Regions from separate parts of the Homo sapiens genome. Here all the other regions are linked to region 3. Evidence: fine-mapped expression QTL. A gene starts in region 3. Each other region holds a variant in brackets. All regions are shown on one strand. Distances are from middle to middle. Region 1 has its middle 68 kb from the start of LINC02272. Region 2 has its middle 110 kb from the start of LINC02272. Region 3 holds the start of PDGFC (platelet derived growth factor C).

What was found. PIP is the estimated chance that this variant, and not a neighbour inherited with it, causes the effect.
Region 1: its variant is the best candidate, but not a certain one, in a credible set for the expression of PDGFC in thyroid (GTEx, PIP 0.75).
Region 2: its variant is the best candidate, but not a certain one, in a credible set for the expression of PDGFC in non-classical monocytes (Schmiedel 2018, PIP 0.70).

Annotation. Positions count from the first base shown.
Region 1 is chr4:156,709,288-156,712,053 of GRCh38, reverse strand. No RefSeq gene overlaps it. Among named protein-coding and RNA genes, the nearest start is that of LINC02272, 68 kb to the right of the region's middle. The variant G/C (reference allele first, on the strand shown) is at 1,040.
Region 2 is chr4:156,754,183-156,756,948 of GRCh38, reverse strand. No RefSeq gene overlaps it. Among named protein-coding and RNA genes, the nearest start is that of LINC02272, 110 kb to the right of the region's middle. The variant C/T (reference allele first, on the strand shown) is at 1,414.
Region 3 is chr4:156,970,663-156,973,428 of GRCh38, reverse strand. PDGFC (platelet derived growth factor C) reads left to right here and starts at 1,630. Exons shown (of 6, transcript NM_016205.3): 1 at 1,630-2,643. The coding sequence starts at 2,526. RefSeq lists an enhancer at 1,343-1,843.

The DNA.
Region 1 (2,766 bases), 260 kb after region 3:
TTACCACTACTTAGTCAATGCTATATGTTCTAAATTTTGTTATGGAATAGTTCCCCCAAGGGACCAGATTTCTGTTCGGATTACTACTGCTCTGAAATATATTATCAATGGCTTAAACAATCATTTTATTCTGCTTATAGAGAGAAGTACACTAGTTTCTACTCCATGATGTCTAAGGCCTCATATGGGAAGACCCAAAGGCTGGAAATATCTCAAAACCTGGGTACTGGAGATATATGAAAGCTTATTCACTTATATGTCTGGAGACAGAGCTAGGATGATATGAAGATCAGGATTTCTGGGCCTCTATGCATGAACTTTATATGTAGCTTAAATTCTTACAGTATGTCAGCTTCAGAGTAGTCAGTTTTCTTACATGGTAGTTCAGGCCTGCTAGAATAAGTGCTTCAGTGGTCAAGCTTGAAGCTGTATCACCTTTTTGACCTAGATTCAGAAGTCATACTTTGGAAATCATCACTTTTGCTGCATTCTTTTGGCTATTACTTAGTCATAGTCTGCTTAGAATCATAGCCCTCATCTCTCGATGGGCAGAGAGACAAGGTCAGATTTTAGAAAAGCATGTGGAACGACAGATACCATTGTCTTCATTTTTTAACAAATAATCCTACCACAGAGTGACATCAGCATCATTGGGAAGCTCAGTGATGTCTGTCCTTATCTAGGACAGGACTGATAGTAAGATGTGCTGTCACCGAACTGGCCTTTATTCCGGCAATGCTGATAATAGGATTTCAAAATAGGAAAGGCCAGGTGTTTACAACTATAGTGATCAGTAATGAGATTGGAGTGGCAGCCAAGAGGGCCCAACCTTTGGTGAGGTATAGAGATAGTATTCTGGACACATGAGTGAAGGGCAGTCAACAAGTTGACCACTTCATTTATATAATGAAAAGAAATCAAGGATGAATAAGCAGAAGACTGCAGGTAACCACCCCAGTAAAAAGTCATGATTCCTTCCCCAGTTTCTGTACCTGAGCCAACATTCAGAGCTGGAATCCATTAACTGAAGGAGAAGCTG[G/C]ATTCCTATGAGCAGGGACCTTGCAACACTGCAGCAAGAGTATTCAGTAGTAATTCCCCAGTCTTCCCTAAAGTGATTTATAAACACTAACTTATGTAACTGTGCATTGCAAAGAGAGAAATACCCGAGCTTTACAGGATTACTGGAAAAAGGGTCTGACTTAATATTTGCATTCAGGGACACAAAGTCCCAACATGACCCTCCTGTTAGAATGAGGGCATGGGGCGGCCAGGGAACAAGTGGAATCCTGGCTCAGGTCCTGCTCACAGTGGAGCCACTGTGTTCACAGACAAACCATGTGGTCATTTTTACAATGTCTAATGGAATGCGCATATTTGGTAGTTGACAGAATTCTCAATTGTTATACCTGGGGTAATTGAAGTGGGAAAGCCTCTGAAACTGTCTCTTTCTCTCTAAGACAGTAAACCAATACTGCATCTTGGGAGGGAAAGGCAGAAGTAAATGCCACAGAATGCAGGGTGGTCTGTATTCTATTCTCATTTAATTAACCAGTCTGGCCTTTATAGAAACGTGATAGGTCATGATGGATGACAATGGAATTCCATTTACTTAATTAGATAGTACCCTCAATTGCAGCTATGCTGAATGTGGTATCTTTGCTAATGTAGATTAACAAAGATTCTGCCATATGACACGCTGTCACTGATCTGATGAATGCCTTCTTTTCCATCCCTATCAGAAAAAAGGATCACAAGTTGTTTGCATTTATTTGAGGCAAACAATATTATACATTTACTGTGTGGCCCAAGGTCTATGTTGTATTTCCTGGTATCTGCCCTAATACATTCAAAAGGGACCTAGACTGGACACTCTGTGGTATATCACATTGGTCCTGTCTGTTGAGGACATCATTTTAATATAGTAGATGGGTGCAAAATGTGTGTACTGTGTTAAGACACACGGATTTTTTAGGGTGGGAGGTAAACCCTATTCAGGGACCTGTCATGTCAGTGAAAAGTTTAGGGGGCATAGTGGCCTAGGGAAAGCCAGGACATCTCCTCCTAAGTAAAAGACAAATTCTAGCATCTATTACCTCCCACAAGAAAGGTAATTGCTTTTCTTTCAGAAAAGAAAAGCAATTCTTGGTAGATATTTTCAGGTTCTGGAGAAAGCATAGCCTGTACTTGGAAGTACTCGTCTAACCCATATACTAGGAGATATGAAAGGCTGCCAGCTTAGAGTGGGGCCTATAGCAGGAAAGAACTCAGCAACAGGCCCGGGCAGCAGCAAACTATATTTTATTCAGAAAGCAGAAACTGAAATGGTCCTTTTTAGAGCTCCAACCATGGAACGTCAAGTGACCAGTTTCATGTGGCCAGAGATGCCCACCTTGAGCAAAATTATTCTGACCCACCCAGTCATAAGTTCAGGCAGGCCAAGCAGTAATCCAGTTTAAGAAGGAAGTGAAGCCGGGTGCAGTGGCTCATGCCTGTAATCCCAGCACTTTGGGAGGCCGAGGCAGGCAGATCACCTGAGGTCAGGAGTTCCAGACCAGCCTGACCAACATGGAGAAACCCCATCTCTACTAAAAATGCAGAATTAGCTGGGTACGGTGGCGCATGCCTGTAATCCCAACTACTCGGGAGGCTGAGGCAGGAGAATCGCTTGAAACCAGGAGGCAGAGGTTGCAGTGAGCCAAGATAGCACCATTGCACTCCAGCCTGGATTTCACAAGTCCTAGGCACAAGCAGGATCAGATGGCCCAA
Region 2 (2,766 bases), 220 kb after region 3:
AGCTGATCCTAATATTCATATGGAAATGCAAGACTCCCAAAACAAAATCTCGAAGAAGTGCAAAGTAACACTACTCGATTTCAAAACTTACTACAAAGCTACAGAAATAGTGTGGTAAAGTTAATAAAGTTAGACACGGAGATCAATGGAATAGAACTGAGAATCCAGAAATAGATCCTTAAATGTATAGTCAACTGATTTTTGACAAGAATTACAAGAAAATTCAAAGGATAAAGAATAGTGTTTTTGACAAATGGTGTGAAGACAACAGTATATGCACATGGAAAGGAATAAGATTGGAACCTTTCCTCATACCATATGTAAAAATTAACCCAAAATGAATCAACGACCTAAATGTAAGAGATAAAACCTTACATTTAGAAGAAAATTTGTGTGTCTTTGTATTAGGCCATGGTTCTCAGGACACCAAAAGCACAAACTACAAAAAAAAAAAATGGATGAGCAAGATATCATCAGAATTAAAAGTATCTGTGCTTCAAAGACACCACAACAAAATGAAAGTGTTGTTGAGGATGTGGAGAAATTGGAACTGGTATATTGTTGGTGAGATTATAAAATGTTCCAGCCACTTTGGGAAATGTGCAGTTGTTACAAATGTTAAACATAGACTAAATATGACTCAGCAATTTCATTCCTAGGCATATACCCAAGAGAACTGAAAATTCTGCACAGAAATATTCTTCACATTTTTCACAATAGCCAAAAAATGGAAATTGCCAAAACATCAGTCAACTGATAAATGGATGAACAAAGTATGGTATATCTAAGCAATGGAATATTATTAGGTAATTAAAAGGAATGAAGTACTTATACACCCTACAGTATGGATCAACCCAGAAAACATTATGCTAGGTGAAAGAAGCCATTCATATTCTATGATTCCATTTATATGAAATAGTCAGCATCAACAGATCAATAGACACAGAAACTAGGTTAGTGCTGCCAAGGGCTACAGAAAGGGGATAAATGGGGAAAGACTGCTAATGGGCTCAGGTTTTCCCAGAGTAATGAAAATATTCTGAAATTAGATAGTGGTAATAGTTGTAAAAGTGTGAATATACTAAAAACCAAAGATTTATACACTTCAAAAGGGTGAATTTTTCAATATGTGAATTGTATCGCAATAAGGCTGTTTTCTTTTAAAAAATTATAGTTGTATATAATGTAGTATTTAAGAAATAAAGTTTTTCTCCCCCTCCCGCCAAACGAGGAATAAAGTAAAAGAAAAATCCCCCAAATTCTGTCACCTCAGTGTACGTCATTTCAAGCTACTCTCTATGAATAGAAGAATATAGGTAAAAAAAAATGGATGATGTGATAGAATCATTGGTCTCAGTTCTGCCTCATACAGTAATATTTGACATCTGTACTTTTGCCACGGCCTAATGGCGA[C/T]GGGAGTATATTTTCCCACTTGTTGAATTTAGTCTTTGTCATATGTCTTGCTTGAACAAAAGGTGAAAAAAGTGCCTGTAATGTGTATTAAGGCTTCAAATGTGCTTGCACAGATGGGTTTGATTTCTTTGACTTCTGCTATCACCAGGGGAAAACATGCAGCAGATTTGAATCCAATCCATGCTGTGTTGGCAAATCCAACTGAGTCCAGACAATCCACAGATCCTTCAGTGAGAAATTAACGCTTCTTGTTGGAAGCTACTTATATTAATTCTCACTCTGCTATAAAGAAATACCTGAGACTGGGTAATTTATAAAGAAAAGAAGTTTAATTGACTCACAGTTCTGCATGGCTGGGGAGGCCTCAGGAAACTTACAAGCATGGCAGAAGGGGAAGTAAACACTTTCTTGTCACGTGGTGGCAGGAGAGAAAAGTGCAGAGTGAAGGGGGGAAGAAACACTTATAAAGCCATCAGATCTCAAGAGAACTCACTATCATGAAAACAGCATGGGGGAACTGCCCCCAAGATCTAATCACCTCCCAGGAGGTCCCTCACCCAACACATGGGGATTATGGTTTGGATTACAATTCAAGATGAAATTTTTGGGTGGTGACACAGCCAAACCATGTCATTAATAAATGTTGAGAGTGTTGTTATGCAGCATTATTTGGCAATGATTGACTAATAGATATTATTTCATTTAACATGGGGTCACATGGGGTGACATTGTATTTTTTAGTGAAACTTGAAACTTATAAACAAAAAATTGAAATGAAGCAGGAAAAACATGCATTTTGGAAAATGTTTTATCAAAGTGAGATATAACTTTCTAAACAATCACTAAATCTGCAAAAATTATTGAAAACATTAAAAGCATGGAATTATTTCCTAAGCACCTGCTTTTATTTCAGTCAGTATGTGTTCATTTGCTATTAAGAAAGAAGAGGAAATAAGCCCTTTGAATAACTTAATTGTACATTTTAAAATAACTAAAAGAGAGTAACTGGATTGTTTGTAACACAAAGGATAAATGCTTTAGGGGATGAATAGCCCATTATCTGTGATGTGATTATTACACATTGTTTGCCTATAAAAAACACCTCATGTATCACATAAATATATAAACCTACTATGTATCCACAAAAATTAATTATAAAATTTTTAAAAAGCTGCAAAAATTAAGCCCTCTGACATCTTAGCCTACCTCTTCAACAACTATCTTCATTTTTGTTTATTATATTGTTTATTATTTAATAAACATTGAATAACAATATACATTTAATATAAAAAAGTAAAAACATTTAGTAAACATTTAAGTTATGTTTATGTCTTAATAAACACTTGTATAATG
Region 3 (2,766 bases):
TTTGCCTTTAGTGTATATTTAGTACTCTGTAGATAGAAGTGGTAAAGGGATAAGAATGAATGAATGAGACAGGCGGGTGAAATTTTCAAGAATGAGACAGATGGGTGAAGTTTTCAAAGGTTTCTAAAAGGGAAAAACAAGAAGACTAGGATATTCCAAGCAGAAAGGTCTGGTTGGTTGGCCCCAGTTGGTGTTCGCATATAAGAAGAGGGCTTGGCATTTTCCTCACCACTGAAGAAGGATCAGCCCCTGGTTTGGTCCAGTAAGAATATGTTCTTGCCCAAATGCCACTCCTTAGTTTCAGGGACATTGCTATTTTGGTTTTCTGTTCCAGCCCAAGTGTTCTTGATGGTCGAATTGTTTGCATTGACTTTTTTTCCACAAGAAGTTGGGTGATATTGCTGATTTGCCTGCCATGGCACTTCCTTGTTTTCATTTTGATTATTACTCAAAAATAGCTTCATTTTAAAATTCAACTTTTCTGACTCTCTGCTTGTGCCTTTAACACATTGACAATGATTTTCTGCTTCTCCACAAAGAAAGCACGTTGGATCCTGTCACAGACATATTTAGCAGACATGGAACCACCATAAGCCCTGCTTGGCATGTGTGTTTCATTTCAGACTACCTCATGAGAACTTTAGGTCTTAAAGCATCGGCCTCTCTCTCCAAGTCAGCCTGAACACAAGCCACAAGAGATTTCAGTTCTTTCTCGACCTTTTTGGTGTAAATGTAAACAATTCTATCACCAGGGGTTCAGGGCAGCCTAGTTTTGTTAGAGGCTGTATTGTAGGAAAGTCCAAGGTTGCAGGATCATTCTGAGTCCCTTAGACACCATTCTCAGAAGAGCTTGCTATTAGCTTAATGCTGCCCAACTACTACGTATGCTTCACGAGGGCAGGGACTTTTGTCTGTTTTCACTGCTACGGCTCCAACCTCTAAACAGTGCCCGACATAGTAGGCATTCAGTAAATATAGTACTTGTTAAATGGATGTTATTTTGGCTGCCTTTACTTTTGCTTTATTTGTCCTGCTTTACGGAGCTGGAAATTGGAGGAAAGCCTTTGAATTCATTTCCCTTCTTCCTTCTGTTCTGAAACTCTGGCCAAGGGTCCTAGCAAAGACCTTAGGGAGTGGGGAGCCCTCCTGGAAACTAATGACAAGTCAGGCGACAGGGGGCGGGAGAAGGAGAGCTGCAGGAAGTTCTTTCCCACTTACTTCTGCAGCACCCTTCACCACCCATCGTGCTCTGTATTTGGGGTTAGAGGTGTTCCGTGGAAGGGAAAGCAGGGGCCGCCTTGGCCGCGTTCCTCTCCTGGGCCACCGGGGTCTTGCCCACAGCGAGTCCCGCAGCACCCCCTGTCTGCGCAGCACCTGTTGACAGCCAGTGGGCGGCCAAGCCCGCTCGCGCGGACGCGTCCCAGGGCTGCCCCTCCCAGAGGCGCTGACCCCCGCCCGCCCCATCGGCCGCCTGCGGGAGAGCCGCTGAGCCGCCCCCGCTCGCCAGGCGCGCGCTCCGCCCGGGCTCGGCCCACGGCCCCCACCTCCTGTCTGCCGCCCGGCGGGGGGAAGGTAGAGAAGGGGAGGGGACAAGCCGGATCCTCCCGGCCGCCCCGGCCTTCCCTCTTCACCCCGTGCGGAGACGCCGCGCGTAGCCCCGAGGTTAGCGCGGAGCCCGAGGCGTGGGGGGAGGGGACGGGGAACAACCGGAGCCCCGCGGTGACCCCGAGCGGCCGAATTGCCCCAGGCTTTGAGGAGCGGGGGACGAGCCCGAACAAGGTGAACTTTGGTCGCGGAAAACTCAAGCCAGGTGCCGGAATCCGTGCTGCGGCGCTCCGAACCCGGGGCCAACTGCGCTCCGGGCTGAGGAGCGGGAGCCCCGCGGCCTCTCTCCGCCTGCGCCCGGGCCGCCGTCGGCCCGGAGCCCCCCGGCCCCGCTCCGGCGCCCCGGCCCGTGGGACCCGCCGCGGCGCCCTCGCCTTGTTTCTTCCCCCTCCCCCTTCGGGGGTGGGGGGTGGGGCGGGGGAGAGGGGCGCCCGGAGAGCCGCATCTATTGGCAGCTTTGTTATTGATCAGAAACTGCTCGCCGCCGACTTGGCTTCCAGTCTGGCTGCGGGCAACCCTTGAGTTTTCGCCTCTGTCCTGTCCCCCGAACTGACAGGTGCTCCCAGCAACTTGCTGGGGACTTCTCGCCGCTCCCCCGCGTCCCCACCCCCTCATTCCTCCCTCGCCTTCACCCCCACCCCCACCACTTCGCCACAGCTCAGGATTTGTTTAAACCTTGGGAAACTGGTTCAGGTCCAGGTTTTGCTTTGATCCTTTTCAAAAACTGGAGACACAGAAGAGGGCTCTAGGAAAAAGTTTTGGATGGGATTATGTGGAAACTACCCTGCGATTCTCTGCTGCCAGAGCAGGCTCGGCGCTTCCACCCCAGTGCAGCCTTCCCCTGGCGGTGGTGAAAGAGACTCGGGAGTCGCTGCTTCCAAAGTGCCCGCCGTGAGTGAGCTCTCACCCCAGTCAGCCAAATGAGCCTCTTCGGGCTTCTCCTGCTGACATCTGCCCTGGCCGGCCAGAGACAGGGGACTCAGGCGGAATCCAACCTGAGTAGTAAATTCCAGTTTTCCAGCAACAAGGAACAGAACGGTGAGTCTTTCCCCCATTCTCCCCCTGCTTGTTTCTCGCTGTGTGTGTTAACGTTGGCATTGTGCGTTGGTATGTGATATATACCAGACTGTGAAGGTATCTTTGGTCTCTCATTACATGCAA